Homo sapiens: one gene and its partners. The protein of the gene in region 3 interacts with the protein of the main gene of each other region in a pairwise test. Each region holds a gene or a part of one and is shown on either strand. Other genes may lie near its edges.

Region 1 (7,104 bases), on a different chromosome or scaffold from region 3:
CCCATTTGATTACCTACACAATAGTTCAGTAAAATAGATAGGACTAATATATTGTTACTCTCTTTAAGGTGAGAAATCTGTGGCTTAGTGAGGCTAAGTTACTCACCCAAAGGTAAGCATAACTAGCACAAGTCAAAACCGAAACTTGGACACATGTTTTCTGAGCCCTAATCCAGTGCTTTCTTCACTTACATTGCATTGCCACTAGGGGCAGAGGAAGGACAATAAATTCCCATATCTCAAAGAACAGCAATGTAGATCCCCCTAGCAAACTAATTTGGGAATAATAATTAAGTTATGATCTATATCAAATGGTTTCACCTCCAAAGAGAATAAAACTTCTAATAGAAATACACTAAGTGAGGTGCCCAGAGCAAAATGCAGATGAGAGTTCTGCTTGGCTTGGTTTGCATCATCTCCTTTCAGATGTCTCTCTTTTCCCATCTGGTTTTTAAAGATACGAAGCTGAGGTGTCTCTACGCCAGCTGGTAGAGTCAGATGCCAATGGCCTCAAGCAGATCCTGAATGTGCTGACCCTGGGCAAGGCCGACCTAGAGGCACAAGTCCAGTCTCTGAAAGAGGAGCTCCTTTGCCTCAAGAACAACCACAAAGAGGTGAGACAAAGACCAATAGAGTAATCACAAGCTAAGTCCCTAAAAGTAGCATCAGTTCCTTTGAGTTGCACCTGACAAAGGGTGTGCCCGCTTGTATTAGTTCGTTCTCACACTGCTATAAAGAAATAACTGAGAGTAGGTAATTTATAAAGGACAGAAGTGTAACTGAGTCACAGTTCCACATGGCTGGGGAGGCCTCAGGAAACTTACAATCATGGCTTAAGGGGAAGCAGGCACATCTCACTTGGCAGCAGGAGACAGAGAGAGACCAAAGGGGGAAGAGCCCTTTATAAAACTATCAGATCTTGTGAGAACTCACTCACTATCCTAAGAACAGCATGGGGGACACCACCCCCATGATCCAATCTCCTCCCACTAGGTCCCTCCCTTGACACATGGGAATTATGGGAATTACAATTCGAGATGAGATTTGGGTGGGGACACAGAGCCAAACCACTGCTACGTACTACTCTGGTTTAGCCCTGAAAATACCTACTGCTACTAGCACTGGTTCAAGGTAGTATTTCAAATCCACTGGCTCCAACACAATATCTGGAGCCATAAGGGGAAGAAAGGCCTCCAACATCCCCTCCAGCTTTTCTACAAGAAGGAACCCAATTTTTCTGTCCTTACAGTCTTCCCATGTTTGTAGGCATCCCTATACAGGCTTCTGCCACCTCCCATTGGTACAAGTCAATATTGGTGCAAGTCAATATTGGCACAATCCCGTATTTGCACCATAGAGACTATAATCTCTCATGATCAATTCCACCTTTATCCTGTTTCACCCATTATCCAGCCCTGGAAATGATCTAAATTTTTTGGAACTCTGGTCTTGCTACTCATTTTTTTTTAATTTTGCACACATTTAAACACACAGTCCTACCTGAAAGAGTCTTAAATCATTTTATAGCATCTCAATAACACCTGTAAATCATGTATTCCTTTGTTGTGGGCTATATTTTAGACACAATTAAGCTAAATCGTAGCAGTTAGAGTGAAACAAGAACACAAAGGGGTTATCTGTTCACCAAGTGACTTCACAGTCTTTTTCTTTCCTTAGGAAATCAATTCTTTACAGTGTCAGCTTGGGGAGAGACTTGACATTGAAGTGACTGCTGCCCCTTCTGCTGACCTAAACCAGGTTCTACAAGAAATGAGATGTCAATATGAGCCCATCATGGAGACAAACCGCAAAGATGTGGAACAGTGGTTCAACACGCAGGTGGGGGATATAGAAAAGTCAAAAACAATAAGCTGATGCTGCATTTCTAGGGCCCTTTAATCAAAGTCATGTTTTCCTCCCATAATATTCTCAGTCTCTGGCTGTGTGTTTCAGATAGAGGAGCTGAATCAACAAGTGGTGACCAGCTCTCAACAGCAGCAATGCTGCCAAAAGGAGATCATAGAACTGAGACGCAGTGTGAACACTCTGGAGGTTGAACTGCAGGCCCAGCATCGAATGGTACTGAGCAAGCTGACCAAGCCTAGCTCAGCAAAGATGGAAACAGTCCCTTACACCTGTGTGCTGCAGTATTTCCCAAACTGTGTCTTTCAGAACAATAGTTCCTCATTTGTTAAAGCGTCTATGGCTGAAAAAGAGCTTTGTGGCCAAATAAGTCTACGAAACGCTGCACTAAACCAAGGTTAAACAGGGTGCCTTCCTGTGAGCCATTAATAAGCTAATATACACCATGAATCTCCAGGAAGGGGGTATATGGTATTCAGCATTCCAAAACTTATTTGACTGTGGATCCCCCCACTTTTTTTAGAACATCTCATGGTATTAATGATTCATGAAGTACACTTTGGGAAACACTGGGAGAGCATTTTATTATATGCAAAGCATTTTTACAAGCTATCACATGAGATTTATAAAGCAATCCTAAGAGGGGGGGTGGCATAATTATTAACGAATGTTACAGATGAGGCTCCAAGAGCTAAAGTGATTTTCCCAAGCAAATCCAAGGTAAGTTTCAGCCCACCTATTTTATAGAGACACTGAGATCCTGAGACATTAAGAAACTCATCCAAAGTCACAAAAGAAATAAGAGTCTGAGCCAGAGTTTAGATTCCAAAGCCAGTATCATTCTGTCTCATGATAATGCCTCTCTGAAGTAGAGAATTGCTTACATGCTCTGATGTGAAGGCTTTTGGGAAGACCTTGCCCCACACTGGTTTTGTCACCAGCTAGTCATGTGACCTTGGACAACATATTGAACCACTTGAACCTCAGTTTTCTCATCTATAAAAATTGGGATAATCATGCAAATAATAGGCTATTAAAACCTAAAATCCCATCATTATCCATAGACTTACAGAATGATAGAGCAGGAATGAAATTTACTCATCAGTTTCAACTTTCATATTTTACATATAAAGGAATTGATCTGGTGGATAAATTGTATATGGTAAAACATTGCTTCCTTCCTTTTTTAAGACACGAACACTCACTGAATGAAGTGCCATGGTAATGCTTTTTTTTTTTTTTCTTTTTGAGATGGAGTCTCACTCTGTCGCCCAGACTGGACAGCAGTGGCACGATCTCGGGTCACTGCAACCTCCACCTCCCGGGTTCAAGCAATTCTCTGCCTTAGCCTCCCAAGTAGCTGGGATTACAGGTGCCCACCAGAACACCCAGCTAATTTTTTGTATTTTTAGTAGAGACGGGGTTTCACCATCTTGGCCAGGCTGGTCTTGAACTCCTGACCTTGTGATCCACCCACCTGGGCCTCCCAAAGTGCTGGGATTATAGGCGTGAGCCACTGCGCCCAGCCAGTAATGCATTTTTAATGCCTGGGTGTGCATTAAGTTATTATTTTTTCTCTCCTAAGTAGGAAAGTGTGGTGCGAGACTATTGGTTGGTCAAGAAAGAGAAAGTGAAACAAATACTTACAGAGAAGCAAAAAGAGAAAGAGAGAAAGAGGGAAGAGATAAAGGAAAGCAGATTTTAGCATAGTTGATCATTTGGGTTTTGGATTTATTTGATTAGGAAACAATAAATAAAGTGCTTGGAGATCTATCAGTAGTGTCACAAAGAAACCATTTTTTTTAAATGATACAGGTCACAGGTGACCTGGGCTTAAAGGAGTCATTATAAATCCTACTATCCTTCTCCATGGTAGAGAGATTCCCAAGAGTGCATCCTAACGGAGACAGAGGCTCGCTACACGGCCTTGCTGACCCAGATCCAGAGTCTGATTGATAACCTGGAAGCTCAGCTGGCAGAGATCCGGTGTGCCCTGGAAAGACAGAACCAAGAATACGAGATCCTGCTGGACGTCAAGTCCCGGCTGGAATGTGAGATTACCACATACCGCAGCCTTCTGGAGAGCTCGGATGGCAAGTATGTAAAATAACAGCAACTTCTATGACAAAAAAGTGTAAATGAACGCAGATATATGTACTGCCACTGGCAACAGGGGTCAAGTGCTTTGTTTGACCTTCTTGCCAGTGATGGGGAGCTTGGACAGAGGCATCCACACACCCTCTCAAGCTGTGCCATGAGGAAGACTTGCAATTGTAACCTTATCCAAATTTGAGGCATTGGCTGACCTGAGCTGTTCTGAAGAGCCCATGGGCCAGGTTAATTTCTTATAGGTTGCTTACCTTCTTAGAGTTTTAAAAATTACTAGAGAAAAAATTATTTCCCCATAGATGAATATTCCTGGTGACCATTACAGATGTTTCCCCACTGAGATGAACGTCTGATTTTCATGAGCTTGTACAAAACAACCCAGGCTCCTTTGGAGGAACATTCTGCTCAGGCTGAAACCCCTAACCCTATCTAGCCACTAGTCCTTGAGGCCAACAGAAGCATGTACACATGTATGTTTTAGCATCTTTTTTAAAAAATAAAAGTTATAATTTTTGTAAGCAATAAGAAGCTAACCAACCCATAAGTAAACATATATGGAGGATGAGTTCTTTGAAGCAACTCAGTCCAAACTAAAACCCCAGAGACTTAGTTACAATTGCAAAGGAGACCTACTTCCCGAAAATAATCAGTGAACTCTTCACAGCATTCTTTTAATTGGCATGACCACATTATGTGAGCACAATGGTCATCAATGCTGTCACCTTTAGGAGCTGTGATCATATACCAAAATACCTCGAATCATCAAAGAAAGATTATGTTTATAAAAAGAGTGTTTACTATGAACTGCTTTTTACTTCAGTTCTCTAAAAACTATGCATAGACAGCCAGAAGGCACTTTGAAGCTTCCTGATGACACAGTGAGGACTCTTTCATAGCTGGGGTTCAGGCCACCACTATTAGTATGACTAACTCCTCAATGAGAAAAATATCTGGTTAATTTCCATTCCTCGGATAATAATGCCCTCAACTTGTTCCTTATCACTGTTGATCCTGTGGGTTTAGTTTCCATTATATCCATTCTGCAGATGAAAAACTAAAGGTTGAGTGCGTTAAATGACTTAGCTGAGGTCACCAGCTGGTAAAGGACAGAGCTGGTCTCTGCCTCAGTCTTTTGACTGCTAGTGCAGTATTCTTTCCACAATGTGATGGTATTGACTAATGGAAACTTACATAATCGAATACTTCTAAACCTAGGATGCTGATTTCCAATGGATTTAATCTGATTCTTTTTCTTCCAGTAACTACAGTACAAAATAAATGAATAAGCATTTAGAAGTATGTACTTGTCTTGAGCAACACGTGTTAAAAAAATTAGCCACAATCATTTTTCTCCATGACCATCATCGCCTTCCCTCAATCACAGCTAAAATTGTGTTTTTTTTCCTTAGGCGTCCCTGTTACCCACGTGCCACCAAATGTGAGCCTTCCCCTTGGACATCTTGTAAGTCCGGAGCCATAGAAAGCACGGCCCCAGCTTGCACATCCTCATCCCCCTGCAGCTTAAAGGAGCACTGCAGTGCCTGCGGACCCCTGTCCCGGATACTGGTTAAAATTTGCACCATCACCAAGGAGATTAAGGATGGGAAGGTCATTTCTTCTTACGAGCATGTGCAGCCTTGTTTCATCATCAGACCTGCCAAAGTCTAACATCCCAAGGTGATGAAAATGACCCACATTTATGAAACAGAGGCCAATACATGCTCCTGCCAGAGAGGTTTAAGAAAACTCCCCAGTCCCTTAAGGTACTTAGTTTCTTACTACTACAGCGGGTCCCCATTGCTAGGTAGAATATCTTTTATTCTGCTCCTTCCCTAACTCACCACTGCTAACATGATAATAAATTACATTTCTCTGGAAGGATGTTTTGCATTTATCTGAGGGATGGGAACTGATTTGTAAGCACCCAGGAAGATGGCCTACATTGCTTGACTACCCAGGTGATTGATGGGCAGGTCTCTCTCTTGTTTACTCAGGCCTTGTTTACCGACATTCCTCCTTAGAGCCAGTCAGACAAGTTTAGGGTTGTTTTTGGCCACCGGCACCTGAAGGTGAAAAGCTACAACCTTCCCTTCTAAATGTCTTTGGATACAGAAAGAAACATATATGGGAACAGTATAAATAGGGGAAAAGATCTTTAATATTTAATTCACTTGTGTAGATAGTCACGAGTATGGATCCTATTAAACTCTGCTGTCTTAATTATGATTTATCTATACTAACATACTTTACCTTTCCAAAGATATTTTTTTAAATGTCCATGGTCTCCAAAACTTTGTGACCTATTAGGCTCTCCAAATATTTTATTTGAGAATCAGATAAGTTGTGGGGAGTGAATCTAGAACACTTTGAAGAAATAGCATGGGTCTTTTCATTAAACATTTGCTATTTCTCTTTCTATTCTTTAGGGAATGGGAGTTTGTTCTGATTGTTTGACAAGGAACATTTAGCTGGAATTCTCAAGAAATAACCCTTCTTCCCCTCCCTGTGAAGAGTGACAAAGAAAAACATAGCTTAGATTCCTGCTTCAATCTATCCATCAGAGTAAATGGACATAATATCCACACATTTTGCAGAAAAGCAATAGTGAATAATTGCTGCTTGTAAGTGCAAGGCAGTCCCAATGTGAGAAGGCATCATTTATATACCAGCCATCATCACAGCTTCTTACAGGATAGTCTCAGAATATGTAAGTCATTCCTGACAATAATCATTGGACATTGCCAGAGGTTTTAAGAAATAATTCAAAATCAAACACAGATGGGTAGTCAAAAGGCCTGAAGTCCTACACCTGCATTTCCCAGCTGTGACCTTGGGGAAAACATTTAGACTTCATCAAATTTAATTTCTGTGTTTGTTAAATGAGGATCATGCCTACTTCACAGGGTTGTTGTGATGATCAAATGAAATTGTTTATGTGACACTGCTTTGAATGCTGAAAAGCACCACCCAATGTAATTTTTATGTAAGTTTTGCTTTTAGCTACAGCCCTAGACCTATTTTTGTAATTATCTCATTTTAAAATTCTTTCTTCATGAATTTAGTTATCCAGTCATGATTTTGGAGTTTTAATAGTGTTTAACTTTTAGGAGAAAAAAAAACATGATTTCCTGT
Region 2 (9,010 bases), on a different chromosome or scaffold from region 3:
GACAACCAGTTAATGCTTGGGTCATGGACTAAACCAGGATAAAAAACACACCTCCAAAATCCATGGGAGGCTGACAATGGTGGCTCCTGCCTGCAATCCCAGCACTTTGGATCACTTTGAGGCAGGAGGATCACTTGAGGCTAGGAGTTGGAGACCAGCCTAGACAACACAGCAAGATCCCATCTCTATAAAATAGTTAAAAAAAAAATCAGCTGGGCATGGTGGCTCATGACTATAATCCCAGCACTTTGGAAGGCTGAGGTGGAAGAAATACTTGAGCCCAGGAATTCAAGACCAGCCTAGGAAACATTGTGAGACCCCATCTCTACAAAAAATAAGAAAATGAGCCAAGCATGATGGCACACACCTATAGTCCCAGCTACTCAGGAAGCTGAGGTGGGAGGATTGACTGAGCCCAGGAAGTTGAGGTGGCGGTGAGCTGTGATCATGCCATTGCACTCCAGCCTGAGCAACAGAGCGAGACCCTGCCTCAAAAAAAAAAAAAAAAATCTACAAAAAAAGGGAAATGAGCCAGTTGATGTCTGCCTGCCCTGTGTAACTGCCTTTGGCCTCCTCAAAACCCACCTGGCCCATACTAACATGTGGCTGCATCCCAGCCATGGGAAGGCTTTCAGGGATTCCATAAAGAGACCATGAGGAGCTATTCATACTCTTGCCATCTGACAGTGGTCAACTGAAGCAGGATACCACAGGTATACATGACCTGAGACCTTTCTAAAACTGATGTTTCCTTGCTGGGCACCATGGCTCATGCCTGTAATCTTAGCACTTTGGGAGACTGACGCAGGTGAATCACCTGAGGTCAGGAGTTCGAAACCAGCCTGGCCAACATGGCGAAACCCCATCTCTACTAAAAATACAAAAATTAGCCAGGCGTGGTGGCGTATGCCTGTAATCCCAGCTACTCGGGAGGCTGAGGCAGGAGAATCACTTGAACCCAGAAAGTAGAGGTTGCAATGAGCCGAGATTGAGTCAATGCACTCCAGCCTGGATGATAAAGGAGACTGTGTGGCAAATAAATAAATTAATTAATTAACATCTGATGTTTCCAGATCAGCTCAACAGCCATGTTTACCACATGTAAAATGCTGGGAATAGATGCCCACCTTTCTTTAGACTTCCAGTCAACACCTATAGTTCACCAATCTAACATGACACAGCAAGATCGACTAAAACTGAAATGTTAAAACCAGTTGAAAGAATCCAGATCTCCAACATAGCCAGACCTCATCTCTCAAAAAATACAAAAAGAAAAAAAGAATCCAGGTCTCTAAGTGTAAACACTTCCCTTCTGAAGTTGGTCTCTGCTCTCTACCTAGATAACTAACTCAGCTGTTATCTATGATAAAGACTAGGAGAAAACAATCCATTTTCCTCCCTACAAATTTAAGAAGTGCACTTCAGTTTCTGTGGCAGTATGAGACTCCAGCACCACCATTTTAGTCAACATTATTTTCAAGGTGCTTGTTTTAAGGGGCTATTCTCATTCACACTAGTTCAAGCACACTAAATATATGTGCTTCTATCAGACGGTGGAAGGTGAAAATAGGAGCTTTGAAGCCCTCCCATAAATTTAACTTTCCTGTCTGTAAACGCACTAGATGGGGATAAAAATGAAAGATGGCCGGGTGCAGTAGCTCATGCCTGTAGTCCCAGCAGTTTGAGAGGCCAAGGTGGGAGGATCACTAGAGACCAGCCTGGGCAACATAGCAAGACCTCATCTCTACAAATAATTTAAAAAATTAGGCTGGGTGCGGTGGCCCACACCTGTAATCCCAGCACTTTGGGAGGCCAAGGCAGGCGAATCACCTGAGGTCAGGAGTTTGAGACCAGCCTGACCAACATGGAGAAACCCCATCTCTACTAAAAATACAAAATTAGCCTGGTGTGGTGGCACATGCCTGTAAGCCCAGCTACTCAGGAGGCTGAGGCAGGAGAATTACTTGAACCTGGGAGGCGGAGGTTGTGGTGAGCTGAGATTGCGCCATTGCACTCCAGCCTGGGCAACAGGAGCAAAACTCCGTCTCAAAAAAAAAAAAAAAAAAAAAATTAGCCAGGCGTGGTGGCATGCACCTGTATTCCCAGTTACTCAGGAGGCTGAGGTGGGAGGATAACTCGAGCCCAGAAGGTCGAGGCTGCAGTGAGCTGTGATTGTGATCTTGCCACTGCACTTCAGCGTGGGAGACAGAGCAAGACCCCATCTCATTAAAAAAAAAAAAAAAAAAAAAGAGAGAGAGAGAGAAAGATACAGCAGCTTCCCATGATCAGAATTTCAGAGGCATAGAATTCTGGAGTTCAGGCAGCTTAGATGCTGGCCTGGATCCTCACAGTGCAGATCAGGAGACTGAAGCTCCAACATCTACCCAAGACCACAGAGACCTCTCAGGCAGAGAAGTTACATCACTGAGGAAGTAGGCAAGGCTCTGACTCTGGCAGTGTTGCCCCCAGCCTAGTCCCTTGGCCAAGCATTTTGCATGCACTACAAAGGGGACAGTCCCTAGGAGAAAGAAGTTCTGAATGTTCGAGAACACACCCTCAGCGTTGGCATGGTCACCAGAGGGGTTGGCAAACTTCAGACACCAAACCTAAAGTCTGATGAGGAAAGCCTTTCCAAGGTAGCTGCAGTCATGTTACTTCATAACTTACACACCTGCTTCGTCACAATCACTGGGAAAAAAAGGGAGACTGGGAGAAAGAAAAAAAATTAAGTATCTCCCCTATGATTTCCTGTGTCTGCTTGGATCATCCTAAAATAGGGAGTCTCCCTAATGCTGACTTTTTTTTTTGTTTGGTTTTGGGACAGAGTCTCACTCTATTGCCCAGGCTAGAGTGCAGTGGTGCAATCTCAGCTCACTACAACCTCCACCTCCCATGTTCAAGTGATTTTCATGCCTCAGCCTCCCAAGTAGCTGGGATTACAGGTGCACACCACCACACCCAGCTAATTTTTGAATTTTTTTTTAGAGATGGGGTTTTACCATGCTGGCCAGGCTGGTCTTGAACTCCTGATCTCAAGTGATCCGCCCGCCTCGGTCTTCTGAAGTGATAGGATTACAGGTATGCCAGTTAATTTTTTTGTATTTTTAGTAGAGACAGGGTTTCAGCATGTTTGCCAGGCTAGTCTCCAACTCCTGACCTCAGGTGATCTGCCCATCTTAGCCTCCCAAATTGCTGGGATTACAGGCGTGAGCCACCGTGCCTGGCTCCTAATGCTGACTTTAATGAGGACCTTCCTAAAGTTGATCCAACTAGTAGTGTTCAAGTCCTTGGACTGAAAAACAAGTTTATGAGCAGCAAGGTCACCTGATTCTGATCATGTGTATGCTGTTTACCCTGAGATGACAGGCCGGTGGCCACAGAAGCTTTCATGAATGCTGCAAAGACTCTACTATCTCTTTGAAGGCTACCAGGGCCTCCACATGACTAAATGCCATAAAAAAGAACCTCATGAATACAGCAAGAATGTGAAAGGAAGGAAGTCACAAAAACACCACATGCTCATGAGGGAAACTCCATTCTGGACACTAAATTTTTAAAGTAAACTTGTTACTTGTTTGCCTAACCTTCTAGGTATCAAATTACATCATCACTAAAAATAATCCCTGCTTTACCCCCAACACACCCACTGGCCATCAAGATCTGCTGCTTAGACCAGACCATGCCCACAGTCAGGAAATAATGGCAGCCCAGACCCATGCGGCTCCCCAGCTCACATCAGCAACAAGTGCCAGCCAAAGGACCTGAACTCTGACCACAGGGATCAGCTCCATGATCAGGGAAAGAGGGTGGTCATGAAGGGCTTACCCATCTCTTCCTTTGCTGACAATCTTCACTTCAAAGTAATAAATGCCACAGGCAGCAGGTATGGGGTGGGTGGCACGCACTGAGGCCGCATCTTTGTGATTTTTGCCATGACCTAACAGGAGAGGGCAAGTAAGAAATTTCAGCAGAAGGAAATGCAAATGGAAGCCTCATTTTTCTCTGCAACTCCTCCATGACAACTCCACTCCTCTGTGGCCAGAGGACGCACTTACACAGGCCGAGGAATCATTAGACAACTGAATAAACACTTAAACCTTCCACCTTTGCCTCACCTCCTCCTGAGAACAGCAGTCCTGCCTGAGACACTGCCCATACAAACAAAACAAGGGTAGAGGCAATGTGAGAGATACTCAAGTGCTGCTGGCAGCCTCTCTAGAATCCAGGCAGCCCACCTGGGAGGCCAGGGGAAGAAGGATGAGGCCGACCTGGAAGACACCCCCCAAACTCTAGCACGGAACCCCAGGCTCAGTCTAGGATGCCTGGCAGGTGGGGAAGCCCATGAGTCTCACGCTAATGGTAGGTATGTGACCACCCCTTTCTTCTAAGCAGTGGCGAAAGGTCCCGCTGCCGTTGGCGCCAGCCTAGGATAAGCACGGAGGCCCTGGAGTGGAAGGTCCGGCCCAGCACTGGGTTTGGACACCTGTTGCGGTTCTCTTGACGGCAGGTGTCTCAGGACAGAGAACAGGCAGTCAGCCCTCGGCCTGTTCAGCCTCACCACCCTGGACATCCTGAAAGGGCCAAGCCCTAACTTGGAGCACCTAGGCAGGGAAAGGGAGGTGATAGGGCGGGGGCCTGGCAGCAGAGCCACCCCACGGACGCTCTAGCCTTAATTCCCCCCAGCCTGACGGGCCGATACCTTTGTAGTGGACGCGGAGGTTGCCCTGGGAGAGACCAATGTAGTTGTATTTGTCCTTGGGGCTCCAGGAGCGCGGCAGCGGAGTCTCTTGCTGGTTGACCGCGGGATACAGGCGCTGCAAGCGCCGGCTCAGCTCCTGCTCCCCAGGGGACGGCAGCCCGCCCCCAGCGCCCCCGCCGGAGGAGTCCCCAGGCTGCGGGTTCCCAGCTCCCGGGTCTGCCGTCGCTGCCGCCATCTTGGAGGGAGCTACTATTGTGTCACTGGGGGCGGGGAGGAGCGGGACCAGATCCGCCCCGCTCAGCCAATGGCCCGTGAGCCTCCCTGGGCCGCAGGGAAACCGAGTCCGAGTCCGGCACCCCTCTTTGGACACTGACACGCCTTACCACATTTCGAACTCCATACCCCACAATGCAGAGCTCTCGAGAGGCGGAGCAACTCGGGCTGGTAGAGAATTCTGGGAGATGTAGTATAACCGTCCTCAGCCATAAGCCTGTCCCATCGAGACGTCGGGACACCGAAAACTACCATTCCCGCCGGCAAAGCGGCTCCGGCCTCTCAGCACACTTCCCTCCCCATGGCCTCTGTTCATCCCCCTGCCTCAGTTCTGGTACCTGGGGTCAAATCGGCTGTAGTGGTTGACTCTCAGGGCACCCGCTGCCGGGTCCCAGTCCACCTTTGCTACTTTGTCCTACTCCCAGCCCGCGGGCGCTAGGCTCGGGGGCGTGGCGCATCCCTGACTCCGCCCCCGCCGCGGGGGGGCCTCTGGGGCCTGGTCGCCATGGCGACCGGCTGTACGCTACCACAGCTTCCCAGGCCGCGGGTGCTGATTGCCCGCCTGCCCGTGGGTCATGGCCTGCCAGCAGTCGCGGTACCACAGCTTCTCGTCCGCGTCGAGGTAGGCGCTGGCAGGGATGAGGGCAGAGATGAGGGTTTGAGTACTTCTAGAGAGGGAAATGGCACTTGATCCGGACCTCTGCACCTCCTGCTGGCCTCTGACCATTGATCTAGGGCTCCAGCACCACAGAGTCAATGGTTAGAATCGGGCTGATTTAGCCCAGTGAAGACGTTACGTGCTAGCAAAACGGTAGGCGCACTTTATCATTACTAGTAACAACCAGCTTGTATTGAATGTACTATATGCCAAATGCTTTATATACCACATTTTTAAATATTTTATTTTTGAGACAAGATCTCGTTCTGTCGCCCAGGCTGGAGTGCAGTGGCACTACTACGGCTCACTGCAGCCTCGACCTCCCGGGCTCAAGCGATCCTTCTACCTCAGCCTCCCGAGTAGCTGGGACTACAGGCATGCGCCACTACGCTTGGCTAATTTTTGGGTGTTTCTTTGTTCGTTTGTTTTTTGTAGAGACGAGGTTTCACCACGTTGCCCAGGCTGGTTTCGAACTCCTAGACTCAAGCGACCCTCCCACTTCGACCTCTCAAACTGGGATTACAAGCGTGAACCCCCACACCCGGCCTACGTACCATATTTAATCCTCACAACAACTGTATAAAGTAGTAATATTACCATTGAACAAGTAAAGAAATACTTTAGAAGCCTGGAGAGATCATCCTCTGGGTAGCTTCTGCCTGTACTCAGGTGTATAGCCTCTGGGTACTGCAAAATATGACCAGCTCCATCAGCCTGGAGAGCCATACATACGGATTAAAACAAAAATTTTGGCTAAATCGTTTTCTAGTTTTGGGACTTCAGACAGGGCCCTTCAAGTTCCAGGCCTCAGCTTATATATCTCAAACATGGGAATGATACAGCCCACCCCACAAACATTGTTGGGAACATTTAGGCAGAATATGTGAAGCTCTTGACACAGCTCTTGTATGTAATAGGCACCCAGTAAGTGTTGAATGAATGTAGTGTCCCCCCTTCTACTCATTCCCAGTGGGGGAAAAAAAAAAAAACACCACCCAATCCCACCTAAACTCTTCAGGGTCTGCTGCCTTGACAGAGAAAAGCCTACAAAAGCCCCTAAGAGGCCAGGCACGGTGGCTCACGCCTATAATCCCAGCACTTTGGGAGGCCGAGGCGGGGGGATCACTAGGTCAGGAGATCGAGACCATCCTGGCTAACGTGGTGAAACCCGGTCTCTACAAAATACAAAAAATTAGCCAGGCATGGGGGTGGGCACCTGTAGTCCCAGCTACTCGGGAGGCTGAGGCAGGAGAATGGCATGAACCTGGGAGGCAGAGCTTGCAGTGAGCCGAGATCCTGCCACTGCACTCCAGCCTGGGCAACAGAGCGAGACTACGTCTCAAAAAAAAAAAAAATTTAGCCGGGCATGGTGGCAGGCACCTGTATTCCCAGCTACTTGGGAGGCTGAGGCAGGAGAATCGCTTGAACCAGGGAGGCAGAGGGCAGAGGTTGCAGTGAGCCAAGATCACGCCACTGCACTCTAGCCTGGGCGACAGAGTGAGACTCCGTCTCAAAAAAAGAAAAAAGAAAAAAAAGGAAAAAGAAAAGAGAGAGAGAGAAAGAGAATTGTTACCCAGCACAGGATTAATTTAGTAAACTGCCATTCTCTATGAAAAGGATATGAAGCAGACCCAGAAAGAGAATCCCCATTCATTTTAAGAAAGAAGCACAGGGCTGGTCATGATGGCTCATGCCTGTAATCCCAATACTTTGGGAGGCCAAGGTGGGAGGATCACTTGAGGTAAGGAATTCAAGACCAGCCTGGGAAACATAGTAAGACCCTGTCCCTACAAATAATAATAATAATAATAATAAAAGTTTCAGCTACTCAGGAGGCTGAGGCAGGAGGATTACTTGAACCCAGAAGTTCGAGAGGGTGTAGTGAGCTGTGATCACACTAGTGCCTTGTAGCCTGGGCAACAAAGCAAGACCCTGTCTATTAAAAAAAAAAAAATGGCCGGGCGTGGTGGCTCACGCCTGTAATCCCAGCACTTTGGGAGGCCAAGGTGCGCGGATCACGGGGTCAAAAGATCGAGACAATCCTGGCCAACATGGTAAAACCTTGTCTCTACTAAAAATACAAAAATTAGCCAGGTGTGGTGGCTTGCACCTGTAGTCCCAACTACTCGGGAGGCTGAGGCAGGAGAACCCAGGAGGTGGAGGTTGCAGTGAGCCCAGATCATGCCACTGCACTCCAGCCTGGCAGCAGAGTGAGACTCCATCTCAAAAAAAGAAAGAAAATCAGCCAGGCATGGTGACCTGTGCCTGTAATCCCAGCTATTCTGGAGGCTGAGGCACAAGAATTGCTTGAACCCAGGAGGAGGAGGTTGCAGTGAGCTGAGATCTTGCCACTGCATTCCAGCTGCCTGGGAGACACAGCAAGACTCCGTCTCAAAAAAAAATAAATAAATAAATAAATAAATAATACAGGCCGGGAGCAGTGAGTGGCTCATGCTTGTAATCCCAACACTTTAGGAGTCTGAGGTGGGTACATCATTTGGGGTCAGGAGTTCAAGACCAGCCTGGCCAACATAGTGAAACCCCATCTCTACTAAAAATACAAAAACTAGCCAGGCGGTAGTGGCATGCACCTGTAATCCCAGCTACTCAGGAGGCTGAAGCAGGAGAATCGCTTGAACCTGGGAGGCGGAGGTTGCAGTGAGCCGAGATCGGGCCACTGCACTCCAGTCCGGGCAAGAGAGTGAGACCCTGTCTCAAAAAATAGTAAATAAATAAAATTTAAAAAAAAATACAACATCATTAATCTACCATATTCCTTATTCACCAGCATTTAGTGATGTTGGGCCAGACTCACTGTTTCTCTTAGAGACACTGTGGATGTCCTCATCCTTTCCCTTTAAAAAGGGGCAGCATGATGGATAAGCTAGACCTTAGCACTGTGGAACATGTCATCAGGACCCTCTGCAAGGGACCTTCGAATTGTGCATTTTCCTGGGGCAGGTTTCTCCTCCCTATCGGCTTTTCTCCTTTCACCCTCATAACCCTGGCACTTGGTGGATGGAACTCAGCAGCTTGCGTTCACTGAATACCAAGATATAACCCTGACAAACCCACTGCCTACTACCACTTAAATAACTGAGCTTGAGGCCGGGTACGGTGGCTCACGTCTGTAATCCCAGCACTTTGGGAGGCCAAGGTGGGCAGATCATGAGGTCAGGAGTTCGAGACCAGCCTGACCAACACGGTGAAACCCCATCTCTACTAAAAATACAAAAATTAGCCGGGCTTGGTGGTGCTCACCTGCAATCCCAGCTACTTGGGAGGCAGAGGCAGGAGGATCACTTGAGCCCGGGAGGCAGAGGTTGCAGTGAGCCGAGGTCATGCTACTACACTCCTGCCTGGGCGACAGAGCCAGATTA
Region 3 (7,467 bases):
AACACACAGAAAAAAAGACCTTCATAGAAACAGAATTATAGAGAACAGAAAAAAATTTCATTGAGAATGATAATTAATATCCTTAGAGGCCAAGCGTGGTGGCTCATGCCTGTAATCCCACCACTTTAGGAGGCTGAGGTGGGAGGGGTGCTTGAGACCGGGAGTTCTAGACCAGCCTGGGCAAAATAGATCCCTTCTCTACAAAAAATAAAAAATTTAGCTGGACGTGGTGGTGCATGCCTATTCAGGAGGCTGAGGTAGGAGGATTGCTTGAGCCCAGGAGTTTGAGGCTGCAGTGAGCTAGGATCGTGCCACTGCACTCCAGCCTGGGTGACAGACGGGTCTGAAAACAAAACAAACAAAAAAATTCTTAGGTAACGTTGTAGCCATGAAATAAGAACATTAGGCTATAAAAAAGTTTGAGAATCAAAATGAACTCTTAAAAATTAGCAAAAATTTAAATCAGCAAAAATTTAGTAATTACATTAGTGGGTTAGAAGATAAAGTTGAAATATGAAAAGCAGGAAAGGTAAGAAAATAAGAGTCAATCTATAACGTTTATAGCCATTACAACAGAAAAGGGAAGATAGGAAATAAAGAATTAATGTAAGAAAACGTCCCAGACCTGAAGGACGTGAGTTTGTAGAATGAAAAGAATTCACTTAATACAGCGCAAATGAATAGGAAGAGTTCACATCAAGGCACAAAAGAATGCATGTTGGAAGGCCAAAGCTAAAGAGAAGATTTCAAAGACTTCAGAGAAAAGGTCGCTTACAAAGGTGCAGGAATTAAAATACTGTCATACTTCTCACTGATAGCACTAGAAGGTAGAAGACAGTAGAGCAGTACCTTTGCAATAGCTAGGGAAATATTGTCCAACTCAGAATTCTCTTCCTTTCTGAACCATCAAGTGAAGGGTAAATATAGGCTAATGACATCTCCCATGCACACATTCTCTGTAGTCATTATCGTCATAGCTGACACTTAAGTAGTGCTTACTGTGCTTCCCTTCAGTACTTTACAGCCACAATATGAGATGGACACTCACATTTCCCTGTTTTGTAAGTGGGGAAGAGGCGTAGAGAAGTGAGTTCTCAAGGTCACATGGCTAGTCAGTGGTAGAATTGGGATTGGAATGTGGGCAGTCTTGACTCTACCTGAGGATGTCCTCCATCCAAAGAAAAAGATCCAAGAGCTGAGATCCACCACAGAGCAAGGCGAGAGGAATCCCCAGGCTGGAGCTGCAGGGATGTCATGCTCCAGGATGGTAGCAGTACAAGTGGGTCCAGGTTAGAGTAGATGGTTGAAGGACTCCAGGAAGAAATGGAAGAGCTTATATTCCCTGGCATGTCTGATCAGATCCTGAGTGATGTTTGGGCATGTGAGGGTAGTCTCATGTTGGAGAATGGATTAGAAAAACAAAACAAAAAGGGGAAAAAAACTTATGAGAGGTCATCATCATAATATGTTATGTGGGTTTGCTTTGAACGATATTTGTGTAGCCTTTATAAGGAAAACCCTGAATATTGATTTCACTAAAAATGTGGTTTGGGGAGGATGTGGGAGAAAGTGCTTTTGAGGCGTGTGCGTGCATATGTGGGGCCAGTGGACAGTGGTGTAAGAGTGAGATATCCTCTGCTTCATAGTAGGAAGTCAGGAGATATCACTAATATCTGGTGGAAAAACCAAGCACTGTCAGTATAGTATTTAGAAATGTGGCAATAAATGCCAGAGGAAACACTTAAAACGTTTGAAAAGGGTTGCCTGTGGAGAGCTGGAATTAGGATTTGGAAAGAGTGAGGTAGAGGACTGCTATTATTTGATACAAGAATCGTGTGATTTTTTTTTTTTCCCCTCAAACAGTGTACACAGAAAACCCGGAATTATCCTTGGCTTTTTTCTTCCTGTCACAACCCATATCCTATCCATGTCAAAGCTTGATGGTTCTATATTCAAAGTATGTCTGGAGCCCGATCCCTTCTCACCACCTTCCTTGCTGCCACTGGGTCCAGCCACCACCTCTCATCTGAATTATTCCAGTGTCTTCTCTCTGGTCCCTGAGTTTCTCTTATTGCTCCTCTCCAGTTTCTTAGCAGCATTCCCCAGACTGATCCAGTTCACATACAGTCAGATCGTGTTGCTCTGTTGTTCAGAACCCTGCAGGGGCTTCCTAGTTCACAGAGTCCAAGCCAAAGTCCTTCAGGTTGCCCCACACGTCCACTTACCCCACTTGCCTGCTTTATTTTCTCCAAAGCACTTAGCATCGTTGAAAATTTTTTTTTATGAATTTATTTTGTTTCTTGCCTGTCTTCCCTTACCACAATTCGATCTCAGGAGGGTGGGATTTTTTCTGGCTTCTTCGCTACTGTATTTCCAGAGCCTAGAACAGTATGTATAGTAGGCACTGAATAAACATTTGTTAGATAAGGGTATTGCCTTTATATAAATAAAAAGCCAATTAAAAATACCACAAGTTTTTAAGCCATTTGCCATAAGCTAAGCTAAGCAGCTCATTGTTTTACTGGCTTAAGCATCCATAAGCAGTTTGAAACTGAAATCCTGAGGGGTCTAATTGAAAAGATTTGTTTCCATCTGGAAAATAACGATATTCTGTCCTGAGATTACACACCTATCTCTGCCATGCACTCTCAAATCTTTTTTACAAAAATGTATCATACCGCTCTGTGGTAACTACTTATGACTAAAACAATTGAGTTTCACAACCCTTGGCAGCTAAGATTTCAGGGAGAACACTAGTATATGTTTTTAAATCATAGAATCTGCTTAGTGAGTATAAATAGGCATCACACACGTCTTCTGTAAGGAGCACACACCTAAGATTCCAATTCTTCTGACATGGGGAAAACCACCTCCAAGGCAAACCATCAGTTTGCCTTCCGCTTGCGCATAACAATTCTTGCCATGCTCTGCTGCTGAGTGAAGCTATTTGTATTTCATCAGGGTGTTCTCTTGCCTGACTTTGCCCCTCTTCTCACCTATTCCTTCAGGAACCTTAAGATGCCAAATTAGTGCTATCATCTATATTTCCATGGCTACCGATCAAAGTTCTGCATACACATGATTAGAATTCACAGCAGGATAAGCTGGACTATGTGATGGAATGGTCTTTATCCCAAAGCAAATACCTGATTACACAGGGAACAACAACAACAAAAAGGAGCCAAGTGAATGACGTGTGCAAAAGCCCTTCTTGTGAATCAGTTGAAAGATAACCTCCCTCCACACCCCTAATTCCTAAATCTCATAATGTGGGCAATCCTTGAATCCACCAAGGACTTTAAATACTTCACAGTCTTGTTTCTCTGATGTGGAATCTGTTAGATTATGGCTCCATTCATAGAAGTATGTCATTTGTCCCTTAATATCCTCAGGGATTGGTTCCAGGACCCTGCAGATACCAAAATCTGGATGCTCAAGTCCCTGATAGAAAATGACATAGTATTTGCATATAATCTATGCACATCCTCCTGTATACTTTAAATCATCTCTAGATTACTTACAATACCCAACACAATGTAAATGCTATTTAAATAGTTATTATATGATATTTATTTGTATTATTTTTAATTCTTTTTTTGTTGCCGTTTTTTTCTGAATATTTTTTAACCAGGGTTGGTTGAATCCATGGACACATAACCCATGGATACTGACTGTGATTAATATTTGTGTTGTCTGCTTACTATGGGACCAATGAGATTTTGCAGGGATTTTTGTGTTGTTTGTTTGTTTTGGTGATTTTATTGAGCTTAACAGGTGTTAAGTTACGTAGATTTCAGTAAGACCTTTGGCAAAGTCTTTCCTTGTAAACAAGGAAATGTGTGTGTTAATGAATTGCACAGTGAATAGGATTCATTGCTGGTTACAAACTCTTCCCAAGATCGTTTTGGAGAGAGCTCAATCGTGGTGTGTCTCAGGTCTCTGCCCTTGCCCTGGCCTGTTTGCGCACGGTATTGAGTATTTGGATAATGACTTAGAGGACATGTTTACCGAGTGGTGGATGAGAAAGCTAAGAAGAATAACTAAAGCTAAATGTCGACCAAGGATTCTGAAAGATCACAGACTGAAGGATGAGTTGAAAGAGACAGGATGAAATTGAATAGTGATAGTTGTTTTCATCAGCTTAAAAAATCTAACTATAAAGTTATACACTGGAGAACTGGCCAAACTGCTGTAGAGACAAAAGGCACTTGAATTTTGTGAGATCGGTGGGAATTAGGTGTGTGTATTGTAGTTGTCTAAAAACAGCTAAGGGTCTTGGTTACAGTTGCCAAGATACAGAACAAAAGTAGTGCAGTGACTACTTCTAGTGAATTCTGCAAGAATGGCCAGGTCACGCTTGGAATGTTGTACTCAGTTTTTACTGACATATTAAAGTGGTTTTATTGTGTAATATTTGGTACATACAAAAGAATACATGTAAAACACAAGTTATAAAGTAAGTAATAAAATGAATGTCTAAAAGCCTTACTCCCAGTTTAAGAACTAGAACATTCTGAAAACCATTGAAACAATATTGTCCTTCCATACTCCAGAAGTAACCATTACCTTGCACTTAAGTTTGTCATTTCCTTTCTTTTTGAAAAACCGTTCCACCATGTTATATGTGCATTTCTAAGTAATACATTTTTTACTTGTTTTTGAATTTTATGAAAAGGATGTCACTGAAGGTAGTAACACTTCATGCCACTTGCTTTTTACTTTCGACATTGCTTCTAAGATTCATATACATCGGCCTTTCCCAACCAGAGCCCCTCATCTTGACCACAGAACACAGAAAATAATTGGAGTGTATTTTCTCAGTCCTCCAAACATGATACATAAATAGTCTCCTAAATTTTAGATGCATAAGGGAGAAGTTATCTCGTTACATACAATGGATGCCTTAGGCTGGGCATTTGGAGCTTAATTCTCTATTGGAACCTGGTTGAGACTGGCCGAATTGTTACATGTAGCTAGAGTTAATTCATTTTTACTGCTGTAAGATATCCCATTTGTGAGCACACTAAAGTTTTTTTCATATGTCCTCCTATGGATGGAAATTTGGGTTGTTACCAGTTTTTTGGTTTTGTTATTGTGAACAGTTCTGTGATGAACATTCTTGTGTGGACCTGCAGGTGCACAAGAAAAATTTCTCTAGGCATACATCTGAGTGAATTTGCTTGGGTCTGCTGCATTTTATGGGGACATTGACAAACTGATAACGAGTTCAGAGGAAGGCAGTTAAGAATAATTTAACCATGTCATAACCAACCTTTGTTTTCCTTATTTTCTTAGGGATTGAAGAGGTTAATGACCATTTGCCAGAAACACTTTCCTACAGACCCATCCAAATGTGTGGAGTACAATGCACTGTGAGATCTGTGTATGGTGTGTTAATAACAATAAGAAACTTAGGGAAGCAGGCTGTGGACTTCTGGAATTACCAACAGGAATGAGGAAAGAAGAAAACTGGAGTTTCCAGTCTCTGAGTTCTACCTGATGTAACTCTTGATTGGTTTTAAGAACTTTGTTGGCCTTCATTTCATATCTGACTGCAAGCTGATTTTTCTTTCTTGCTTTCATTTTAATTAGTCCAAAATTAAGTTTTAAAGATTTTTCCTCACAATTTAAATCCATAGACAACAGAAGGGGGTTTAAAATGACCTTTTTTTCAGTTGACCCGAAAGTTGTGGTTAGATGATTAAAAAGAAACATTTGAGGATGGACTTAATTATTTCAGTAAAATATTATAATTTGCCTATTGTCTTTTATGTAATATTTATATAAAATATTTTTATATATTTCAAAAACATGGGACCATTGAATGAAACTTTATAGTCCTTAAATGTTGCTGAACTTTTGCTGTCTTGCAATAGAATTTGAATGTAAATATTATTACTGGTATAACTCAAATGTTATTTTTCTTGCATTTCAAAGCTTGCTTTTATCTTCCAAGAAGTGTAAATTTTAGTATTTGTCATCTCTCAGGACAGATACAATTAATAGGAAATAGAAGTTTGAAGAAACAGAGATGGCACATCATAGCAAACTAAGTTCAAAACAGAATAACCCCAGTGCATCAAGGTTAAGGTGGGACAGTGGTTTGTGATGCCAGGGAGAGTGGGGAAATTGTGATGATGCTGGTAGACCTGGGCAGACTGTGTTCCCAGCCACACCCGCCAACAGAGGAGGAAGGTGCTGGTACTGATGTCCCCACCCGAGAGTCTGTCCTGGCCTTGGTTTTCCACAGTGAGGGCTCGTTCTAATGTTGCACAATGTCATACTCAGATATCACTGTGACCTGTTACTATGCTTTAGAACCCGAGAGGCCTCTGTTCACATGGCAGCATGTGTGAGTGGATGCTCCCGGAGCAGGTGGAGTGGTGGCGCTGGATAGCGGTAAGAGCGGGGGCTCCAAAGGCAGAACTTCCAGCTTCACATCTCAGCTCTGCACCTGCTCGCTGTATGACTTTAGCAAGCAACTGGATCTTTCTAAGCGTCAGCTTCGTTGTCTTAAATGGTAGTTGGTAATAATAGTCCATGCTTCGTAGCATCACTTTTGTGTTCAAGCAGAATGCTGAGCACACTGGCAAATAATAAGAGCTCGTAAATATTAGTTGTTGTGTCACTGTTGTCATTAGAGGGAAGCCAGAGTCCCTTTCAGGAGCCCTGTGTTTAGGGGCAGTGTGTCCTCACAAAACAATAACAGTAATAATGATGGTGTTAGCAGCAACAGCAGTAATCATGGAAACGTTGATTAAGCATTTACTGTATCTGAACCCTGCGGCTGTTCCTGCTTTCAGCCACTTCTGCATTGAGAAGGGCCGGGGATGTGGTGGAAGCTAGATGTCACCAAGTAGGGGGATGTAGATTCACAGCGGTCTATTCTGGTTCCTCTTGGGAGGTTCAAACCTTGGGGAGGTTCAAAAGCCAGTTTTGGCCACTTGTGCTCTTCTGCTGTGCCTAGACAGGATCGTTTCTGATGGTTATATGCATGGTGGTGGCTGAGGTCCGCTGTCTGGAATTGAATTGGGGTTCCTTGCCTCCCACTCCCTCATTTGGAAACCTTTTCTTGTTATTAAATCAGTTAGAGGGGGCCAGGCGCGGTGGCTCACGCCTGTAATCCCAGCACTTTGGGAGGCCGAGGTGGGCAGATCACGAGGTCAGGAGGTAGAGACCATTCTGGCTAACACTGTGAAACCCTGTCTCTACTAAAAATACAAAAAATTAGCCGGGCATGGTGGCGGGTGCCTGTAGTCCCAGCTACTCGGGAGGCTGAGGCAGGAGAATGGCGTGAACCCAGGAGGCAGAGCTTGCAGTGAGCCGAGATCGTGCCACTGCACTCCAGCCTGGGCAACAGAGTGAGACTCTGTCCCCTCCCCCCCGCAAAAAAAAATCAGTTAGAGCTTAGTGTAACTTACCAGCGCAAGTGAGAGACAGACTTTCGTAAGATATGACAGCAATCTA
Region 4 (8,072 bases), on a different chromosome or scaffold from region 3:
ATCTGTCTCCATCCCTGGGACATCAGCCTGGCACTTCTGCAGAGTGTCTCAGCCTGGACAAGTGTCCGACATGGACAGGACCACAAGCACCGGTCATAGGAGTGAAGGAGAGAGTGTGGCCCGAACACCTGGGTGTCCTTGTGCAAAACCAAAACCAGAACCAAAAAGGAGCTCAACCTTGACCTCTAACCACATGCAAACCCAAGTTCAAGTGGATGAAAAGCCAATAGCCTCAGTTCTTCAGGAGGGTTCCTTAAACAAGACACAAACGCTTTAATCAGAAAGTGAAAAAACCTGACACATTCAACAAAATTAAAATTAAGAACTTTTGTTCATAGAAGGACCGTGTGAACAGCGAGACGCGGCGTCCCCCAGGAGGTGTGGCTGCTGCATGTGTAACTGACAGTGTGAAGAGCTCCCACAAATCAATGGGAAAAACACCTTGGTAGAAAATGCGCACGGCCTTCGCCGGTGAGGAAACCCAGCGGGCAGCAAACCAGGGCAGCCCACCCCAACAACGCTGGAGGGACAGTGATGGGGAGAAGCGGTTTCAAGAGTCTGTTCCGATCTTCCAGAGCTGACCCTATGCGCACCCTGTGCCCCGGAGGTTCCACTGAGGGTGCACACCCAGAATCGCAGCCCACATCCCCAGACACCCGCACAGGAGTTTCCTAAGGTGGCCCAGGCTGCACAGTGCCCGGCAGTCTGCCAGGGAACAAACGGATTTCAGGGAAGCCACCATGACAACAGCAACTGGTAGCTCCACCTACCACCACAAGGGACCCTCACAAACAGAATAGTTTTGGTGAAAAAAAGCCACCCCCAAAACACAGGCTGAAGGAATCCAGGTATGAGGTCCCAAAGCAGGCAACATACAACCATCTCTGCTGGGGATGCCCTCTCAGGTGGCAGAACCACGAGGACAGCAAGGAACCACTGAGCACAAGGTCGGTGTCCCGGTGACTGCTTGGAGTAGGATGGGGCTGTCTGTGGGGAAGGGTCTCGGGGGATCTTAGGGGCTGGCCGGGAGCAGGATGGGGCTGTCTGTGGGGAAGGGTCTCGGGGGATCTCGGGGGTTGGCCATGTTGAACTCCTTGACACAGGTGGTGGTCGCCAGGTGGTCGTTCTAAACTTAACCACTGAACTGTGCGGATATTTATTAATGTCTCTGCAGGCCTATCACAGTTCACGACTTTGAAAAATTCTATTTTGGGGGGAAAACGTGGACACCAAACAGGAGTAGCTCTGGGCACCCCAGGAGCCATGAGAGGCGACTGACCCACTTCTCTGTTTGACAGAGGAGGGAACCGAAGCTCAAATAGAAAAAGGGGCTGCCCAGCAGCACGCTGCAGGAGGCAGGCAGGAGGGACCCTGTTTGGAGGGAGAGGAGGGGATTAATTTGAGGGATTAGAGGCACAGAGGCTCTGAGCACACGGAGAGCCAGCCGGGACTTGGTAATATCTATAAATATTTGAGAGTCACAAGAATAGTTTTTCCAAGCAGTCGAAGACAAGATAGCTGAGTGTGGCTGAGCAAGGGTCAAAGGACAAGAGCCAAGGTGGCCAGGCCATCAAATGGTGTGGCTGCATATCTACCATGTGGCCCCCCGGCCTGTGGGAGCCCTACTGTGCGCCAGCCTCTGCCAGGCACTGTGGCTGTCAGAACACCAGGGGCCAGACCCCGGCTCTGTTCTCTGGGGTGCCCATCTGGGGCCCTGGGGAAGACAGAAGACACCCCAGATGTCAGTGGGAGCCCCACTGACCTCCACTCCCCACCCCTTACCTGTCTTCCCTAAACACATCTGCTCTGGGCAGCCCCCAGGCCTTTGCACCTCTTGGAGGGTGGCCTGTCTGTCCTTGGAAACTCCTACCCATTCTTCATGCCTTGGCTCAAGTGTCCCTGCTTCCCGGAAGCTCTTCCCAATACCCCAGGCCAGGGTTCACAACCTGGGACCCCAGAGCATTGTGGGCAAACCCCTTCTGTATTCTGTCCGCTGGCCTAGGAGGATCTGTTGTGGGCCTCTGTCCCCGGCACTGGAGGGCCAACCGGGTCTTTTCACAGAGCTGGTACCCAGAGGGGGCTGGAGTCCACTTGGGAGGGAGGGGCAAGAGCGTCATGAAAACCCCAGGGAAAAGGCGACAGGGAAGACACAGAGTTTGTCATGTGGACAAGAAGGCAGGGAAGGGCATTCTCTACAGCAGGGACTGCGTGGGCAAAGGCAGGGGCATGAAGGTGGCAGCTTGTGGGGAACTCGGAAGCAGGGCGACAGCATGGGGGGGCAGCCAGTGGGAGGGACCAGGGAAGAGAGACCCCTCAATGTACACCTGCCCACCAAAGGGAGCCATTGAGGGCCACAGTGCCACCAGGTGACATGGTCCTTTTGCTCTTCAGCAAATATTTACAGGACTGTCCCATAAGTCAGTCCTGGCTCCAGGCCCTGGGGGGTGTGGGAGAGGAGGGGGCCAGGACCAGCACTCTCAGAGCTCAATCCAGACCCACAGACCCAGCCTGTGATGTGCAGACTCCACAGTCCAGGGGCCAGGAGGCAGGACCGACCATAGGGTCATCCCTGTGGACACTTCAGGACCCCTTCACTGTGACCACCGTGTGGTCTGAGGTTCCCCAGAGACCCTCTACCTGGGCCTGCTCTGGGCCAGGTCCCAGGAGAGATGCTTCCACCACAGGGGCTCACGGCACCCAACATCCCTGCAACCTGGTTGTGGTTAGGACACCCACTTTACAGATGAGAAAACTGAGGCCCAACCAGGGCCAGGACTTTGTCAGTGACTGGGTCTGTGGGACCCCAAACCCTGTGCCCTTCTGTGCAGGAAGCCATGCTGACCAACTTCCCTTCCACTCCCCTGGGCTTTTGGTTCTGAATCCCAGGCACCAAATGCAGGACAGAAACCCACTGGGGCAGCCCCGACACTGGCCAGAAGGGAAGATTCTGGAAAAGCCCTTCAGGCAACTCTGAGAACACTAATTGGGTGAGAGGGAGAGGAGGGCAGGACCCCTCCCCAGTTCTAGGAGTCCTTGCCCCACGCCACCCCTGGCAACTCCAGAAAGGCCACATGGCCCGATGCAGCCCAGGAGCCCAGGCCCTGGCCACTGCCTCCAGCCTTTATGGCTTAGCCCAGGGAAGCCTCAGCCCGCCTGGGACAGCAACGCTGACGCCATCAGCAGCTCAGGCAGCAGATCCGCCCACCTGGCACACCTGCCTACCTGTGCACCCAGCCGGGCGGGGTCATGCCTCTGTCCTCAGTGCCTGGCACACAGGAATAGGTGCCGGAGAGCCTTGGCCGGGCACAGGGAAGGAGGGAAAGAGAAAGAGAACCACCGCAGGGAACCCCCAGGCTGGCCTCAGGGCACCCCATGAATGCTAAGTTTTTCCTCAAGTCTCAGCTGAGTTAAGCAGTGTTTCCTCCCCCCCACAGGCGGTACAACCCAGGTGGTGAAATGACAGCCAATGTGGGGCACCAGGGAAGGGCCCTGGCCTGGGCCAGAGCCTGAGTTTGGGCCTGAGGTCATCTGTGTGACCACAGCCAGGGCTGTCGCTCTTTGGGCCTCACCGCCCCCACCTGGACCTTGGCCACGACAAGGTGGGCCTGGCTGATGGGTATCAGGTATTTGGGGTCTGAGATTGAACCACCTCAGAGACTGGACCCCTCCTCCCAGCACAAGACATGTTGGTCCTGTCCCTGTGGGACCCACAGTGGGGGCTGCACATCAGCTCCATGGCCCAGGAGATGGCCCTGCTCTGAGAGTCCACCCTGGGTCTCTGTGTGAGCCCACCTGCCCCCAGGCTCCCACCTGGGTGTTTCCAAGCCACTCACCCACGGCACTAAGGGTCAGCTGGCAGAGCCCAGGGCCCCTCTGCCCTAGACCTGGGCCCAGGCTGGGCTCTGCTCCTTGGGGGAGGGATGCTCCTCTACCCGGCCTCCTCCCCAGGATGCCAATTCTGGCCTCGGGAGGGAGTGGCGAGGACGGAGACCCTGTGGGCCAGGGGAGACAGTGCTGAAACCCAGCAGCCAGAGCTGGGCCTGCCGCCCACACAACGCCTCGGCTCAGGCTCCGGAAGGAAAACACGGGAGGGGTGTTCCCAAAGTAGGGGTCAGGGTGCCAGGGGAAGTCGTGGAGGAAGTGGCAAATATTCAAACTGGCTGATCCCAGGCCTGCCGCGCAGGTGGTCCCGTGAAGTCTACCAAGGCTTAAAGTTTGGCACCGGGAGGGAGGCCGCGGGGGACACTCCCCAGAAGCTGTCGCGGGATTCCCCCAAAATGGCTCCAAGACGCGGCTGCCTGGTCCAGCCGCGAGGACTCCATCCCCCACCCCCGCCCCCCAGAGGCGGACACTTAAAAGCTCAGAGCCAGGCAACTGGCAGCCCGGGGGCTGGGGCGGGTGGTGGTTGGGGGTGGGGTGGGGTCGGGGGAGAGAGCGCCGGGGCAGTGCGGAACGGCACGAACGGAACCCGGAGGGTCCCCGGGGACCAGCGAGAGTCCAGGGCAGGGAGCCAGAGGGGCGCTGAGGACCGCACAGGACCAGGCGGCCCCGGGTAGGGGGCAGCCCGGCCCTCAGTGGCGCTAGCCCCAGCCCCCGCCGCAGCGGCCCGGGCCGGCGGAGGAGCCCCGCGCGAGGCTCCCCAGCGCCTCGCGGCGCGCACACACGCACCACACACACGCACCTGGCCCGCAGCCCCGCCGAGGCCGCCCGCGGGCCCTGGGGGATGCGCTCGGGTGGAGCCCCCTTCCCCCGCCTTCCCCAGCGCCCTCACCCCCGACCCGGCCCCCGCGAGCCGCGGCACGGGAGACGCTCCACTCACCTGAGTTTCTCCATGTCTGCGGCAGAGGCCTGCGAGAAACCAAACGAGAGGGTCAGCAGGCAGGAGGCGTGCGCTCCGCGGCCGCGCCGGGCAGAGCCGGGCACAGCGGGCACGGCCGGGCAACCCCGCGGGGCCCCGTCCGTGGGAAGCCCGGCGCCGCGCGTCCCCAGCTTCCAGTCCCGGCCGCGGCCCCCGTGACTCAGTGGGCGCGCCGGGCCGCGGCCGAGTAACAGGTGAGCCCGCCCGGGCCGCCGCGCTCCCCGCACCGAGTTACGCCCCCCGGGGCGAAGAAGGGGCCGGCCCGGGATGGCCCGGCCAGGGGCGATCTCGGCCTCGCCCGGAGGAGGGGGACTCGGCCTGTCCCCGTTAACTCTCCGGCGGCCGCGGCCCCGCTGCTCCCCCCGCCCCGCCCGTTAACCCTTCCTGCCCCGCGCTCCCTCCCGGAGGAAGCCGAACCCCGGAATCGCAGAACCTCCGAGTCGGAGAATGTTGGGGAATTCGGGGCCGTGCAGGATTGCAGAACCTGACACTCACACAATCCGAGGGCGATGGCATTTGGAGCCTCGACTCCTCAATCAGGGACCCGCTGCCCTCAGATTCTGGGGTTTTGGGCCTGGCTTGCCCCTCCCGGGCCCCAGGGATTAACCCGTGAGCGCCCGGCTCGCCGGCGGGGCTCCCTGCCTTGCTTGCGCAGACCCGCCCGCGCGCGGCTTGGAGACCCTCCCTGCCCAGCCCCGCTCAGCCGGGCAGCCCCTCCGCGCGCCGGGCAGGGGGACCCACCCGCCGCCGTTAACCTTGTGGGCGCGGGCGAGCGACGGGGACCGCGAGCGGCCCGGGCGGGATCGCACTTCCTGCGTGGAGCTGGGGGCGCCGGGCGGGCTCTCTATCACCCGGGAGAGGCCGCTCCCCGGGGCTTTGCCCGTCTTTCTGTGCCGTGACTGGCACTCAAGGGGGACAGGGGTCCGAGCTCAGGGACCACGCGACAGACCTGGGAAGACTGATGACTGCCCATCCCGGCCCCTCGCGCCGGGCGCCGCCGCCGCGTCCGCCGGGAGCGCGCTCCGCTCGGGTCCGGGCCCCACGCCGCCTCCCCCACCGCCCCGCCGGGCGAGGGCGCAGCCCGGCCGCAGCGCCAAGCTAGAAGGCCCGGCCCCGGGGCCTCGGCCAGGCTCGGCCACCAACTTCCCGGGTGCTCGGGCCGGCCTTCCGGCGCTCTCCCGGCCTCAGTTTCCTCACCTGAAAGCTGGGGGGAAGGGGGAGGCAGCTGGACGAGGCGCTCCACTGCCCTTCCGCACCCGCGGGCTGCGGATCGGCTGGGGTGGGGGAAGGAATTTCAGGGGAAGGGATCCCTAAGGCGCCCGGATGGCGGTTCCCCTCCCCAGACGCTCTAAAAGTTGTCCAAGACCACAAGCCTGGACCCCTCCATAAACCCTCCTCCTGCAAGACAAGGAGTTTGCCGGGAAGACTTTGCCGCCGGCCAGCGCGACCCCCACACCGCTCTCTTCCCCAGGCCCACCTTTCCGGGTCCCCATGACAGCGCTTCTCATGCTAGGTCCCAGCATACAGCAGGCGCTCAATAAACACGGACAGTGCATGCCTGGATCCTACGGCACTGGAGCCTGTCTTTCCTGGCCCTTTCCCCTCCTGGCTGTGAGCTCCCGGGCAGGAGCCCTGTGTTCTCACCAGGACACCCCCAGCACCCAGCAGGCTTGGCCTGCGCTGAGCCAGCGCAGGGTGGGAGGAGCCGTCCACTCAGAGGGTCAGACCTGAACCAGGATCAAACCAAACCCAAGAAATCCAAGTGTTCCTCCATCCACGGACACCCACTCGTTCACTAGCTCTGGGCTAAGTTCTCCAGCAGAGAGGGGACAGCAGACAAAGCAGAGAGGGGACAGCAGAGGAAGCAAGCTCTGCTCTCCAGGGGCTAATGAGGAAAACCCCCTCCGCCCCCCTCCGGTCCTGGGAGGCCACCCTCAGCAGAATGGCCACGGTAGTCATAACAATAACGTCCACCGCCCCTTACACATCATAGCGCTTCCCACGGCTCCTCACCACAGCTCTGCCATGGAAGCCCCGGACCCCCTATGCGGGAGCAAAGCTCCAACAGAGAAGAGGCTTGCTGGAGATCCCGCAGCTGAAGGGGCCCAGCTGCGCCTGGACCCCACTGCTCAGGAGCCTTTCCCACCCAAAGGCTGTCTCTGGTTGCCAACCTCAATCACTCACGGCGAATGACCTGCCAGGGAGTTTGTCTAAAATTAATAAGAATGTATTAAAATTTAATTTTAAAAATCTAGCATTAATTATTTACATTGAATGTTTCAGCCCTTCTAAAAGGCCTGGATGGGAATTCCCCCCACCCCCAGAAGGGAACTGGGGGGAAAGGCAGGGGAGGTTGCTGAGCTGCCCTGGTGGAGCAGTGGGGGCTGGGCAGGGCAAGAGACAGGCAGGGAACAGGCAGCCCCTGCCCTTCAAGCCTATTCTAGAGCCTGAAGCCTGGCTTTGATGCTGCTGTAGCTCAAATCCTCCTCTGACCCATTGCCTTCGGGGCAACCACTGCCCTCCCCCTTGGAGGCTGTATCCTCCATGCGGCCCTCTGTGGGAACTCTGGGGAGTCACTGAGTTTACCCCCACACCAGATGGGACAGGACTCTGTGTCCCAGCTCTGTGTCCCTGGACCAGCCCAGCACCTGGCAGGGGCGGGGGGACTAAAAGATGGGTTGTGCCTGATGCTCTCCATGCAGGAGTGACACAGGCATCTTTATGGGTGGCTAGGGAGAAGATAGCAGGGAAGCTCCCCTGGCCGAGGTGCTACGCCCTCGGGGACAGTCTCCCATGAGGCTCCTGCACGGGCCCAGCACCCCGGGTGCAAGTTTTGATTCAGCCATTCATTGACCACAAGACTCGGTGATTTTCGTGAGACCCTTACTACGGGTGAGGAAACGGAGGCCAGCGCATGAAGTGGCTTGCTCAAGTCCCCTGAGGTTAGCCGAGGCCTGCCTGATGGGCTGGAGAACCGCGGCGCTGCCTGGGTCTTGGGCCAGTGGGTGGGGGCCATGAGGATGAGGAGTCTGTGGGGTGCCCCAGGGTTCCCACTGTGAAGTGAGGGGGCGGGATCTCCCTTAGGGAGGCTGGGACCCCAGGGTGCACACTGGGTGCCCTCGGGGGACAGTCCTCATGGCACAGTCCTTCCCCGCCTCTGGGCGCTGTCCAGCCCCATTCACACCCGCTGCCTCTTCCTCCAACACACCTCTCC

Evidence for each region.
Region 1: the proteins of PRPF18 (region 3) and KRT39 interact in binary tests that used the Homo sapiens proteins (3 or more experiments, as listed by UniProt).
Region 2: the proteins of PRPF18 (region 3) and TSNAXIP1 interact in binary tests that used the Homo sapiens proteins (3 or more experiments, as listed by UniProt).
Region 4: the proteins of PRPF18 (region 3) and BEGAIN interact in binary tests that used the Homo sapiens proteins (3 or more experiments, as listed by UniProt).

The regions. Positions count from the first base shown.
Region 1 is NC_000017.11:40,957,137-40,964,240, reverse strand, and holds the end of KRT39 (keratin, type I cytoskeletal 39), read left to right. Parts: intron 1-457; coding exon 458-614; intron 615-1,677; coding exon 1,678-1,839; intron 1,840-1,953; coding exon 1,954-2,079; intron 2,080-3,739; coding exon 3,740-3,960; intron 3,961-5,381; coding exon 5,382-5,640; 3' UTR 5,641-5,824; downstream 5,825-7,104. UniProt on the Homo sapiens protein: May play a role in late hair differentiation.
Region 2 is NC_000016.10:67,801,603-67,810,612, forward strand, and holds the start of TSNAXIP1 (translin-associated factor X-interacting protein 1), read left to right. Parts: upstream 1-5,286; 5' UTR 5,287-5,477; coding exon of another isoform or gene 5,478-5,547; coding exon 5,548-5,594; exon of another isoform or gene 5,595-5,783; intron 5,784-9,010. Other genes in the region: RANBP10 (ran-binding protein 10), read right to left, coding at 3,826-3,937, 4,700-4,934. UniProt on the Homo sapiens protein: Possible role in spermatogenesis.
Region 3 is NC_000010.11:13,624,965-13,632,431, forward strand, and holds the end of PRPF18 (pre-mRNA-splicing factor 18), read left to right. Parts: intron 1-5,295; coding exon 5,296-5,376; 3' UTR 5,377-5,895; downstream 5,896-7,467.
Region 4 is NC_000014.9:100,563,092-100,571,163, forward strand, and holds part of BEGAIN (brain-enriched guanylate kinase-associated protein), read right to left. Parts: intron 6,702-8,072; exon of another isoform or gene 6,056-6,701; intron 5,887-6,055; exon of another isoform or gene 5,832-5,886; coding exon of another isoform or gene 5,808-5,831; exon of another isoform or gene 5,600-5,807; intron 5,403-5,599; exon of another isoform or gene 5,375-5,402; coding exon of another isoform or gene 5,354-5,374; intron 5,211-5,353; exon of another isoform or gene 4,849-5,210; coding exon 4,820-4,848; intron 3,993-4,819; exon of another isoform or gene 3,834-3,992; intron 1-3,833. UniProt on the Homo sapiens protein: May sustain the structure of the postsynaptic density (PSD).